3 separate regions of the Homo sapiens genome follow, and all the other regions are linked to region 1. The links come from fine-mapping of genetic effects on gene expression. A gene starts in region 1. Each other region holds a variant in brackets. All regions are shown on one strand. Distances are between the middles of the regions. Region 1 holds the start of TAB2 (TGF-beta activated kinase 1 (MAP3K7) binding protein 2). Region 2 holds the start of SUMO4 (small ubiquitin like modifier 4). Region 3 overlaps TAB2-AS1 (TAB2 antisense RNA 1).

Region 1 (4,000 bases):
CTATGGGGGAAAAACCCAAACAGAAGTTCTGAATCACTGGAATTTTTGTTCTATTTCCTGTTAACACATTGATAGTACATCATATTCGTTCCATACATGTTTTTTTAAAGCAGCAGAATCCTTAAACTAACTGTACCCTAATTTAGCCTATAGCTCATGTATCTAACAATTCTTCCCATTGTTTCTAATTAAAATGCTCAGCCAAAGCCTACAACAAAAGAAAAGCAAGTCTTCCTTTATTACAAACTGCCATGGTTTCAAAATTTACAGTTTCAAACCGTCAAAAGTTTAAAATCGTGATTTCATTGTTACAAAGAATGTAAAGATATTTTTTAAAAGGTGTCAATACTCTGCTACTGTATGAACAGTGTAGTAAGCAGAAGTGAAAAAACTGAAAGCAAATATTCTATTCCATGCCCACTAAAATTCCCGGCCAAATCTGGAATTGCATAATGATCATCATAACCTTTAGAGTATGCTAAAGCGGAAACGAAATTCCTTTTCTAAAATGTGAATCAATCTGACCCCAAAATTAGACACTTTACAAACTTACCTAAAACAGACAAAATGGATGCAAAATTATATTGCCGTACAGTTGCTCTGAATACGATCTTAGCGTTCAAGAACTTTCCAATGAATAAGGGTACTCAACAGCCTGCACTGGGGGCCTAAATTTCGTGAACTACGGAGAAACCCCTGTGAGGCTGCAAATTCCCTCCGCTCTCCTGGAAAACCCTCTTATCAGAAACATTTGAAGAATTTATCCACAACAATTAAGCTGACTTGAAGAATGGAAACCTAACATCTCAAATATACTATATATGGAATGAAACATGGCCAAACACATAAATACAAACTCACACGGTCTCTGACACTTTGGTGTACGACTGTGCCTGAACATCTCACAGCATCAGCAACAGAAAGATCCACCTGTCACCTGTTCAGCACCGCCAAGAGACCCTTGCAGCCTCCCTGACTCAACCACAATCGTAGGGTTTGAGGTTGATGGGACCGAAAACCAGAAACATCCAGTGAAATTTAAGGGGCCACATATTCATAGTAGGGCTTGCCCCCCACTTCAAAGACGGCTGCAGAAAACCAAGATCCGCAAAGGAACGATGTTCTCCCTCCCGCCCGACCCCCACATAACTGCCCCGTGTCTGTCCCCAAAACCCCCGCCCCTGAGTCATCTTTAACTAGACCTCGGCTCCCCAAAAGGAGATTTTTCCTCCCCCGCCCCCACCTCACACATGCCTGGGGGCGGGTCAGGGGCGCCGACGCAGGGAGGGGCCCTCCCGAGCCCCTTGCGCCCTCCCCCACCCGGGGCTCTCCTAGGCGCTCGATTCCAATGAAGCTCCCCCTCCCCCCCCGCACGGACGCCCCGGAGCCCAGGCCCGGCCCGATGCTCCCCACCCCCACCGGACTGGGGGACTCGGGGGGCCTCCCTCTCCGCCACGCCACTGGGGGAAGGAAAGAGGCGGAGGGAGGAAGAGTGCAAGTTAGAAGCGAACGCCCCGCACGGGCCTCGCGAGGCGGCAGAGCCCCTTCCAGACGGAGGGGGGTGCGGGGCGATGAGGGGAGAGCCAGGTTGGGGATCCCGCCGAGGCCCGGCAGCGCTGTCCGCTTACCCTTTGCCGCCGCCGCTTCCCCCTCCTCCTCCTCGGCCGCCGCCGCCGCCGCCTCTCCCACTAGGGCAGCCGTCTCCACCGTCGCCTCCGCCACCACGGCCGCCGCCAGCGCCGCCGCCGCCTCCGGTTCCACCCGGCAGGGGGGACACCTCAGCCCTCCCTCCCTCCCCGCTCAGCCCCCTCCGCTCGCCCGCCGCCGCCAACTCCCTCCGGCCGCCGCCGCCGCCACCGCTCCTGGCTGAGGGGGAGGGGAGGGGGTCGGGCTGGGTCGCCCCGCCGGCGGCTGCAGCAGATCAAAAACGACGGCTGGGCGGCGTCGCCGCTCCCCAATCCTCAGCTCCGGCTCGCTCGGCCTCCCCACCTCCCTCTGCCCCCACCCCCCTCGCGCTCGCCTGCCCTCCCCCCACCCCCCCAGCTCTCGCTCGCTCTCGCCGCGGCTCCGCCAGCCCAGTCCAAATCAAAATACTGTCACACAATATGGCGGCGCGGCGGCCGGCAAACACCGCGAGATCTGCAGCCGCGGCTGAGGCGGCGGCTGTGACGAGGCCTCCCCTAGCCGAACGGCGGGGGAGCAGCAGGCGGCGGCGGCGGCGGCGGCTGCGGCTGCGGCCCGGGGATGCTCTTCCTCCGACCTGTACCCCTCCCCCGACACTCGCAGTCTCTACGCCTGTCTTGCTAGGGCTGGAGGGAGGACGCGGGCCGCCGCTGGGGCCGTGCGAGGGGGGTGCCGGTGCGGGCAGCCCGGGGAGGGCTGGGACCCCCTTTCTCCGCCTGGGCCCCCCATCCTTGGGGGTAGGTTGCGGGTTCCACCTCCCGCCACGGGGGCCGCTAGCAGTTTGGGCTGAGGGAAGAAAGGAACTGAGCTCGCGTCCCAGCTGCACCTAGCGGAGGGGCTGGCCGGGTCCGGAAGTGGGTGGCGGGACTTGCCGGGCGGCCGGCGGCGCCGCGCGGGTGGGGTCCGGGGGCCCGGCCGGACCCCGGGGCGCTGCGGCGGCCGAGAGGAGCAGGTGGGCCCGCGGCGGAGGCTGGCGCCGGGTCGCTGCGGTCCGGGACACACCCCCTTGGAGCCGGATCGCACCGCCGGCTAACGGGAGGGACCCGTGCAGAATCGTCCCTAGGGTGTGCGGGAGACGTCTTGGGAGCCTCACAACTGGCAACTTCGAGACTTGGAAAAAGTGTCGGCTTCTGACTTTTCTTGAGCAGTTGAGGGGGAAAAAAGAAATCTAAATGCTGCGAGGGTTTCGTTGTTTCGATTTTATTTTAATTGCACGTTCCTAGAAGTCCTAGAAGCAGAGCCAAAGACTAGCTTTGCGGGAAGAGGGGGGGCCTTCAAGTTTCTACCTCCTTAAATAAATATTTGTTTAGTGTCCCCCTAGGGAAAAAAAAAGCGTGTTTAATACTCAGACGTTTCTCACAATGTGAAATATTTATTTAAAAATTCTAGCGCTTCCATGGTGTCCAAAACACTAGGGCATTTTTCTGCCCCTGTCCAAAATGTCCATATCCCTGGCAGTTTCTTCCTTGAAACAATTCTTACTCCAGAGAAAAATCCTAAAGGACCATTTTTATACTTTTATTTCCAGTGTGAGCACTGTAGCTACAGTGAGAATTTTTTTTAAACCATCTTTTAAATAGTAGAGCCTTCCTCACAGTTAAAAGTTCTTTCTCCCCACTTCCTTTTTCCTCATTCATCCTTTGAAAATACCTGAAGTCTGGGCTATAGCACCAATTCAAATACTTTGCCACTTCAAAAGCTGAAAGTACTTATGATTTACAATATCGGAATTTAATTATTCTCCATTGGTGATACCATTAAGAGAAGCAAAAGTAAAATTAGGATTTACAAAATTGGGAAGATTCTAGTTTTACTGGCGAGAAGAAATCATTAACTTTAACGCTTTACAGCAGTTCTCTGAGGAATTATTTCCATACTCAATGATAAAATAATTGATTAAATAATTTTAGATAAACTGAATCCATTAAGTAAATTTCACTTGTCTTTGAAACCATTATAAAGTACAGAGGCAACAATTGCTTTTGAAATGGTAGGATGATGTATTTTATGCAAATTTTTAAAAAAATTTATGGAATGTACATGTACGTATTTTAATAGAAATATAATGCTTTATAGATTATAGGTTTGAGCAGGTCAAGTCTAAAAACCAGTGGGGGGCAAAGAAGGTACATATAACAAATACATCCTTGCACCAGCAGTGCACTTAGAGCTATGTAGTCATGAGGAAGCATCAGACAAACCCAAGTAGAGGAAAATAAAATATAAAATAACTAGCCTGTATTTTTAAATCATGACCAATGTCATAAAAGACAAAGACTGCAGACTAGAAAAAACTAAAGACATGGTAACGAAATGC
Region 2 (4,000 bases), 84 kb before region 1:
GTGGGAGGTGTCTGGGTCCTGGGGATGGATCCTTCATGAATACCTTGGTGCAGGTTTCTCAATAATGAGTGAGATATTGCTCTGAGTTCATGAAAGATCTGGCTGTTTAAAAGGTGTGGCACCTCCCACTGTCTCGCTCACCATATGACATGCCTCTGCTTGCTTCCTTCACTTTCTGCCATGAATAAAAGTTCCCTGAAGCCTCTCCAGAAACTAAGCAGATGTCAGTGACACGCTTCCTATACAGAAAGCATGTGGGTATCGGTGACATGCTTTCTGCAGAACTGTGAGCCAATTAAACCTTTTTTCTTTATAAATTACCAAGCCTCAGGTATTCCTTTACAGCAACACAAAAATGGATACTACATTAGAACTTCCTGTACTACGTTGAAAATAAGTGGCAAGAATGGCACCCTTGCTTGTGCCAGATCTTAGTGGGAAAGCTTTCGGTTTTCTCCATTGATTATATTACCTATGGGGTTTTTATATATGGCCTTTATTAAGTTCCTTCTATATGTGTATGTGTATGTGTGTGTGTGTGTGTGTGTGTGTGTGTGTGTGTATATATATGTATATATATGTGTGTGTATATATATATATATATATGTGTGTGTGTGTATATATATATATATATATATATATATATATATATATTTTTTTTTTTTTTAGACAAGAGTTTCGCTCCCGTTGCCCAGGCTGGAGTGCAATGGCGTGATCTTGGCTTACCGCAACCTCTGCCTCCCAGATTCAAGCGATTCTCCTGCCTCAGCCTCCTGAGTACCTGGGATTACAGGCATGGGCCGCCAAGCCAGGCTAATTTTGTATTTTTAGTACAGACAGGGTTTCTCCATGTTGGTCAGGCTGGTCTCAAACTCCCGACCTTAGGTGACCCACCCGCCTCGGTCTCCCAAAGTGCTAGGATTACAGGTGTGAGCCAGTGTGCCCGGCCTGAGAGTTTTAATTATGAATAAATGCTGAACTTTTTCAAATGCTTTTTAGCATCTATTAAGATGACTACATGGTTATTCCTTTCATTTTACTTCAATGTGTGTGCTGTATCACATTAACTGATTTGTGTATGTTGAACCATCCTTAAGTCCCAGAGATAAACCCCACTTGGTCATGGCGTATGGTCCTTTTAATGTGCTCAGTTTGGTTTGCCAGTATTTTACTGAGGACTTTTTGCGTCTATGTTCATCAGTAATATTGGTCTGTAGTTTTCTTTAGTTGTAGTGTCTTTGTCTGGTTTTGGTACCAGGGTGAGGCTGGCCTCAGAATGAGTTTGGAAGTGTTCCCCCTTCTCATTTTTGGAAGAGCTTAAGATGGGTTGGTATTAATTCTTGTTTGAGTGTTTGACAGAATTCACTCATGAAGCCATCCAGTTCTGGACTTTTCTTTGTTGGGAATTTTTTTTTAAATTTCTAAATCCATGCTGGATATTTGTTGGGAGATTTTTGATTACTGATTCAATCTCCTTATTTGTTATTGGTCTACTCAGTCTTTCTAATTCTTCTTGATTCAGCTTTAATAGGTGATATCAATTTTTTTTGGATATTTTTTGGATAGGAATGTATCAATTTTTTTCTAGGTTATCTAGTCTGTTGGCATAAAATTGTTCCTAATATTCCCTTATGATCCTTTTATTTCTGAGGCATCTGTTGTCTTCATTTTCATTTCTGATTTTGTCTCCTTTTTTTCTCAATTTATCTAGCTAAGGGTTTGTCAATCTTGTTGATTTTTTAAAAAACCTCTTAGTTTTACTATTTCTTTTTCTGTTGTTTCTAAATTCTCTATTTTTGCTCTAATTCTTATTATTTTCTTCATTATGCTAACATTAGGCTTAGCTTGTTGTTCTTCTACTGGTTCCCTGAGGTATAATTGAGATCTTTCTTTTTTTTTTTT[TA/A]ATGTAGTATTGTTTATCTCTAGAAACTTCTCTCTTAGTACTGCCTTTGCTTCATCCCATAGGTTCTAGTATGCTATGTTTTCCTTTTTGTCTGAAGATACTGTTAAGATTCCCTTTTGATTTCCTTCTTGACTCAATGATTATTCAAGACTGTGTTTAAATTTCCACAAATTTTATGGTTTTCTTGCTGTTACTGATTTCTAGTTTTATTCCACTGTGGTTAGAAAAAATACGTGGAATGATTTCTATCTTCTTAGGTTTGTTTAAACTCGTTTTGTGAACTAACATATGATCTATCCTACAGAATGTTCCGTGTGTGCTTGTTCAAATCAGCTGTTTCTTTATTCATTTTCTGCCTGGATATTCTATTATTGTAAGGGGGGTATTGAAGTCTCCTACTATTGCTGTCAATTTCTGTCGTCAGAACTGTCATTATTTGCTTTACATATTAATGTAGTCTGATGTGGGGTGTGTATATATTTATAATTTTTATATTTTTCTGTGGAATTGATCCTTTTACCATTACATAATAATCTTTGTCTCAAGTTTTAGACTTAAAAATCTATTGTTTCTGATATAATTATAGCCACTTTTGATTTCTTTTAGCTACCATTTATATAAAATCTTTTTCCATCCCTTCACTTTCTGCCTATGTGTGTCTTTAAATATAAAATGAGTCTCTTGTAGATAGTATATTATTGGATCCTGTTTTTATTTTTATTTCATTTTAAACAAAAAGTTTATTTAAATAAGAAGCCTGACTTGAAGGAAAAACTTTCTAGGATTCTTTCTTTTTTTTTTAGAGTAATTTATCCCTACTTAAAGACAGATTGCCCTACATGTAACAGCTATGTACACAAAAGTTATAAAATTGTCCTTGGTTTTACAATGATAAATGAAAAACATGAAAATCCTCCAATTGAACAAGGTATGTGAGAATTTTTTTTTGTTGTTGTTAAAACAGTGAGAGCAAAATAACTTACTAGAATATAAAGATAAGACCTGAATGAACATGCCACTAATGGATAAAGGGGGTATTTTCACAGAATCAGTATTTTTTCCCATCCTGTCTCCACTTGATGTCAATCAAAACATACCATTGGCTGTTTGGTTTGAAGAAAAAAGCAATATGCTTGTGTACACATACCAGTTACTTCATGTATAATAAAAGAATGTGGAAGGGGGAAACAAAAGAATAGAGAAAACTATACTGTAGTAGTCAGAATGTGGTGGAACCAAATTGCAGTTTTCTAATTGAGAATGCAGTAATCTTGGTCTTTAAAGAACAGCGTTCTGGAGTAAAGAAGCAGGTTCCCTTTTCAGTAGACACCTCCCGTAGGCTGTTGAAACACATCAATTGTATCTTCATCTTCCATTTCCAACTGTGCAGGTTTGTCTGTTCCACTGATTGGTTGCCCACCAAATCGGAATCTGATCTGCTTCACTGACAATCCCCGTGGTTCACAATAGGCTTTCATTAGTTTACTAAGTGGTGTCTGCCTCTTAATCTTAAACTGCACCACAGAACCATCCTGTCCCGCCACCTTCAAATTAATATGATTGTTGTTCTCAGTCTTGACTTCTTCTGTGGGCTTTTCGTTGGCCATGGTGAACACCGGAGTCTCCTCAGCTGCTGCTTCACAAAAGAGGTGGCGGGTCCGCACCTAACGAGTACACGAGCAGCAGGAAGAGCAGCAGGAGGTGACAGCGGTGGATGAGGGAGAGGGTGCGTGCACATCCTGGGCTCCCTCCCCTCCCGCTGTGTGCGCCAGCACGAGCTGTTGGGGCCTCCCATTGGCTGCTGCCAGATCCTGTTTTTAAAATCCATTCATACAACTCCTTGTGAGTGGTGAGTTTAATCCATTTCCAGTTAAGGTAATTACTAATAAGTGAGGACTTACTATTGGCAGTTTGTTGCTTCCTGTCTATTTGACAACTGTTTTGCTCCTCTTTTCCTCTTATTGTCTTGTTATTCGACAACGTTTAATCGTGATTTACTTTGATTATATTTGGTTATACTCTTCTATTTTAAGTTGATAACAACTTAACTTCAAATGCATACAAAAATACTACTGCATCTTTACAACCTCCACCCTC
Region 3 (4,000 bases), 75 kb after region 1:
CCACCGCCACCGTGGACTATAAGTCACTTGAGGGCAGGAACCAAGCCTATTCATTTCCGAGTTGCCGGCCTTTGGCACAGTGCCCAGCATGTAGTAGAGGCTCAGTTGAAGGGGTGGAAGGAAGGATAGAAGGATAAATCCATTCCTGAGATCCCTTTTATTGAGGCTGTTTCCCCAAACACTGGAAAGCCTCAGCCTTTGTGTTTGTTTTCTGGTACAATAGCACCTGTTGGTGCTTACCTTTGATTGGTGTACATTGTCTAATTGATCTTTCTATCAGTCATGTTCCAAACTGAAGTTATGTGCTTCTTTGATCATGGGCTGTATCTGCTTTCTTTGGTGTCCTTTTCAGTTGCCCACTGGAAGAGTCTTTCCATTTGCCACACTGGATGCCACACTGGATGGGATAATCTAGGAGGGAGGAACTGTGGAGATGGTGCGCCTTGGGATGTCCAGAAGACAGTGACCAGAATTTCAAGAGATGTTTTCAGATTTCACAGTATAATAAGAGAAAAGGAGCCAATCCCTTAAATGAAGAACCTTCAATCACTTCTCCCCAGGTGCACGTTTCAATTTCATTTCTTTTCATCAACTCCTTCCCTTTGATGATGGGTTGCATTGAAAACTATTAAGAAAAGTAGGATATTTAAAATGAACTGTGTTAAGAAGAGGATCATTTCAAAGAATCTATTCTGAGGAAGTGCCTTCAGCCAATCAAAAAGCTAAAGGTAAGTCAATAAGGTGAAAGTACTGCCTATCCTCATCCTGTTGGAAATATTACATTATATAGTTAAAGTTGTCTCCTGTGTTTTAGGTTATGGAGGTGGGGGAAGATTTGTACAAACTTATTTCCATTTCTTTGCACACAGAAACTGGATATAATGTGAATCTAGTGTAAATTACCATGATGTCTCCTTCAACATTCATCAAGACTTCTGACTAGTCTACTTGATCTGTGAAAATGAGATTACTTGAAGACCTGTCACAGATTTTAAAGCAGAACACGATATATTGATTATACAAATATTTTTATGTCACCCTGTATCTTAATAAAATAACATTTACGTCTGGAGAGTGTGTCAGTCTGAAGAGCCTGCCCAAAGCCAGATCTATATATTTAAATCGAGAAAGGCAGAGGCCGTGCTGGCAGTCTTTCAGCTTGTCCTGCTTCCATGATTGGACATAGATAATAATAATTTTGGGTGCATACGAGCAGATTTCGGAGAGAAGGGAATGAACCCCTGTGTTTACACTATGAGTCAGCAGGCAGCTATTTCAGAGGCTGAGACCAAGAGCAGGCATAGCCGATTCCTTCTCTCATTTTAGAATTCAAACCTATGTGGAGATTCTGATGGAATTACAGATGCAGATCCTAATTTCTGGGAATTTCAGTTTATAGCAAGGTGATGAAAGGGTGCTTCCAGAGTGAGCATGGGAGAAGCACCTTCTGGGAGAGAACTGTTGTCATTTCCCAGCAGGGAAGAGACCTGTGAGGCCTGCCATCTTTGCGTGGTGTGACCAGGGGCTGGGCATCATGGGGATTTGATGCCTTTCTTTGGGGATGAGTCTAACTGCCCCATAGAGAAGAGACGGGC[G/A]GCCATCCTTATGTCACATTCTCTTCTCCATGGCAAAACAATCCCGAACCAGAGGCTATCTTGGGATTCATAGACTTTGGGGCTGCCAACAAGGAAGAGCTACAGGTTCTTCCAGAAAAGTGTGTGTCTCACATCGAAATTCTCTTAAACCATACATTCTGGGGCATTTCCATTTTTGGAAGCTCAACCTCAGAGGAAATGCCTCTTTTGGGGTATTGTGGGACAGTCATGAAGTCTTCAATATTCTTTCATTGGGAGAAATTTATTTCCTGTTCTACTCACAGGCAACTTTAGGAACTCTATAATAACACCTACTAACAATTCACAGGAAAAAAATAGGTTTATTTAGATTTCAAAGTGCTAATAGGCTTTAGTTTATACTTAAAGGTTACTTTCTATTGGCACTAGTATTACTGTAACCCTGGGTGATTATTTGAGTTATTTCAAACCTTAAGGGAGTATTATGATATTATATTCCTGTGGAAAAAGAATTAATCAAACTTGATAAAGATGAGTGTTGGGTCCATGAAACCAATACAGCTAGAGACCAAAGACTGGAATAGGTATCATCAAAATGATCCCTTAGTTTAGGCATGTTCTTTACAAGAGCATTGTTTCAATACACATATGTGGGATAGGCAGGAAGGAGGGCCATCCCGAGCAGTGACATCCATATCCTGCAGAGATTCAGTTTCCTAATGGGAAGCTGGAGCCCAATGGCACCAGGCAGATAAGGTTTGATGGGGAGAATGAGGGAGGAAAGTCCAGAGCCTGGGGAAGGCAGTGGGGAACGCAGTAGCCAAGGATGACCTCGGGGCCCCCAGGAGCAGCCTTACGGGGCAGCAGAGAGAGGAGGCACGGGCTGGAAGGCTGAGAGTGGGCTTCAGGTCCAGTTCACTTCTTCCCCAATTCTTTCTACTTTCTACTCGTATGTGTTCAGAGAAGCCATCCTTAAGTCTGATTCGGTGGCTAGGTATATATTCAATCAGACTCTAATGCTTTGGCTTGAGCTATAATAAAAATCACAATTTCATCTGTAAATCATTCCAGATAGCGTAATATGGAATTAATTTCTGGTTATATTTGCTTGGGAGTCTTTTATGCAGTTTTGAAAATTTGCAGGGAGTTCAGCCTTGCTTTTGATTTAATCTCATTTTCGTCATATTTCTACCCACAGCATTGAAATGGTGGCTGGCAAATGGAATCAATTTGCAAGCAGACTTTAAAGAAGTCCATATTTAAGCTAAAATATCTTTGCAAATATTCAACCTTTTCAAGCATTTATTGGATCAGTGTCTGATAGAAAGAAACAAATACAACAATTTATAATGCCACTTTAAAAACATTAAAAATCATTTACAGTACGCAGGATCAACATCCTATTGATTAAAAGAGTATAGGCAAAAAGCCACTATTAGAAAACAACAAAAAAATGGAGAAGTGGTTTGCCTACATATATCATCAAGTGTAACTATTAAACTGAGCCCAAAATCTATTGTTTTAGTCTGCTCAGGCTGCCCTAACAAAATACCATAGACTGGGTGTCTTAAACAATAGTCATTTATTCCTCCCAGTTCTCGGGGCTGGGAAGCTCAAGATCAAGGTGCTGGCATGGTAGATTTCATTCTGAGGCCTCTTCTTGTGGTGTGTAGGTGGAAACCTTCTTGCTGTGTCCTTACACAACCTCTTTTTTGACCTCTTTTTTTGTGCTTGTGTGAAGAGTGAGAGAGCTCTTGGTGTCTCTTCCTCTTTATATGAGGGCATTATCACTATTGGATTAGGGCCCCACCCTTACGACTTAATTTTACCTTAATTACCTCCATAAAGGCCTTATCTCCAAATATTGTCACATTTGGGGTTAGGGCTTCAACATATGCATTTAGGGGAGGGGCATGACCATTTAATCCATAACACGTGTCATAATTAAATTTGTAGCTCTACATATTTATATTAGTTAAAATATAGCCATTTGATTTTATTGTACTTTAAAATATATTTGACTTTATGTTAGCCCAAAAATAATAAACAAAATTGGACAGACATTACACTTAAAACATGTTCATTATATGCAAATTATACTACCATAAAGACAGAATAAAAATATAGTAGAAAGAGTAGAAAAATAAAGTAATTGTTCTTGAATCTCTCTAGGCAGCAAGCCTAAGATGTTATCACTATCCTTTTATAATGATGATGATGATGATGCTATTATTCTACAGTTTTATAACACTTTACAGAACATTCTGATCCACCTGACCTTATTTACACTGGAGTTCCAGAAACTCTCCCGAAGGCATCTGTCTGTTGAATTGTGAAGGGTTTGCAGCAGAGAGGGGCTAACTGGGCAGTTTTCTGCATTCTGTGGGTGCAGAAATGTCCCCCTTGTTTCATAGACTGGAGGAACC

What was found.
Region 2: its variant is fine-mapped to the expression of TAB2 in whole blood (INTERVAL, PIP 0.93).
Region 3: its variant is fine-mapped to the expression of TAB2 in whole blood (TOPMed, PIP above 0.99). The same link has a PIP of 0.9 or more in T cells and blood mononuclear cells.

What each region holds. Positions count from the first base shown.
Region 1 is chr6:149,315,644-149,319,643 of GRCh38, reverse strand. TAB2 (TGF-beta activated kinase 1 (MAP3K7) binding protein 2) reads right to left here and starts at 1,932. Exons shown (of 7, transcript NM_001292034.3): 1 at 1,629-1,932. RefSeq lists enhancers at 600-709, 870-1,049 and silencers at 1,140-2,039, 2,130-2,669, 2,720-2,789.
Region 2 is chr6:149,399,902-149,403,901 of GRCh38, reverse strand. The region is part of intron 6 of TAB2 (TGF-beta activated kinase 1 (MAP3K7) binding protein 2); the gene reads right to left. It overlaps SUMO4 (small ubiquitin like modifier 4), which reads right to left and starts at 3,640. Exons shown (of 1, transcript NM_001002255.2): 1 at 2,624-3,640. The coding sequence starts at 3,510. The coding sequence ends at 3,223. The variant TA/A (reference allele first, on the strand shown) is at 1,903.
Region 3 is chr6:149,240,354-149,244,353 of GRCh38, reverse strand. TAB2-AS1 (TAB2 antisense RNA 1) reads left to right here. Exons shown (of 3, transcript NR_149096.1): 2 at 353-728; 3 at 870-1,071. It also overlaps a transcript of TAB2 not described here. Among named protein-coding and RNA genes, the nearest start is that of TAB2-AS1, 15 kb to the left of the region's middle. The variant G/A (reference allele first, on the strand shown) is at 1,596.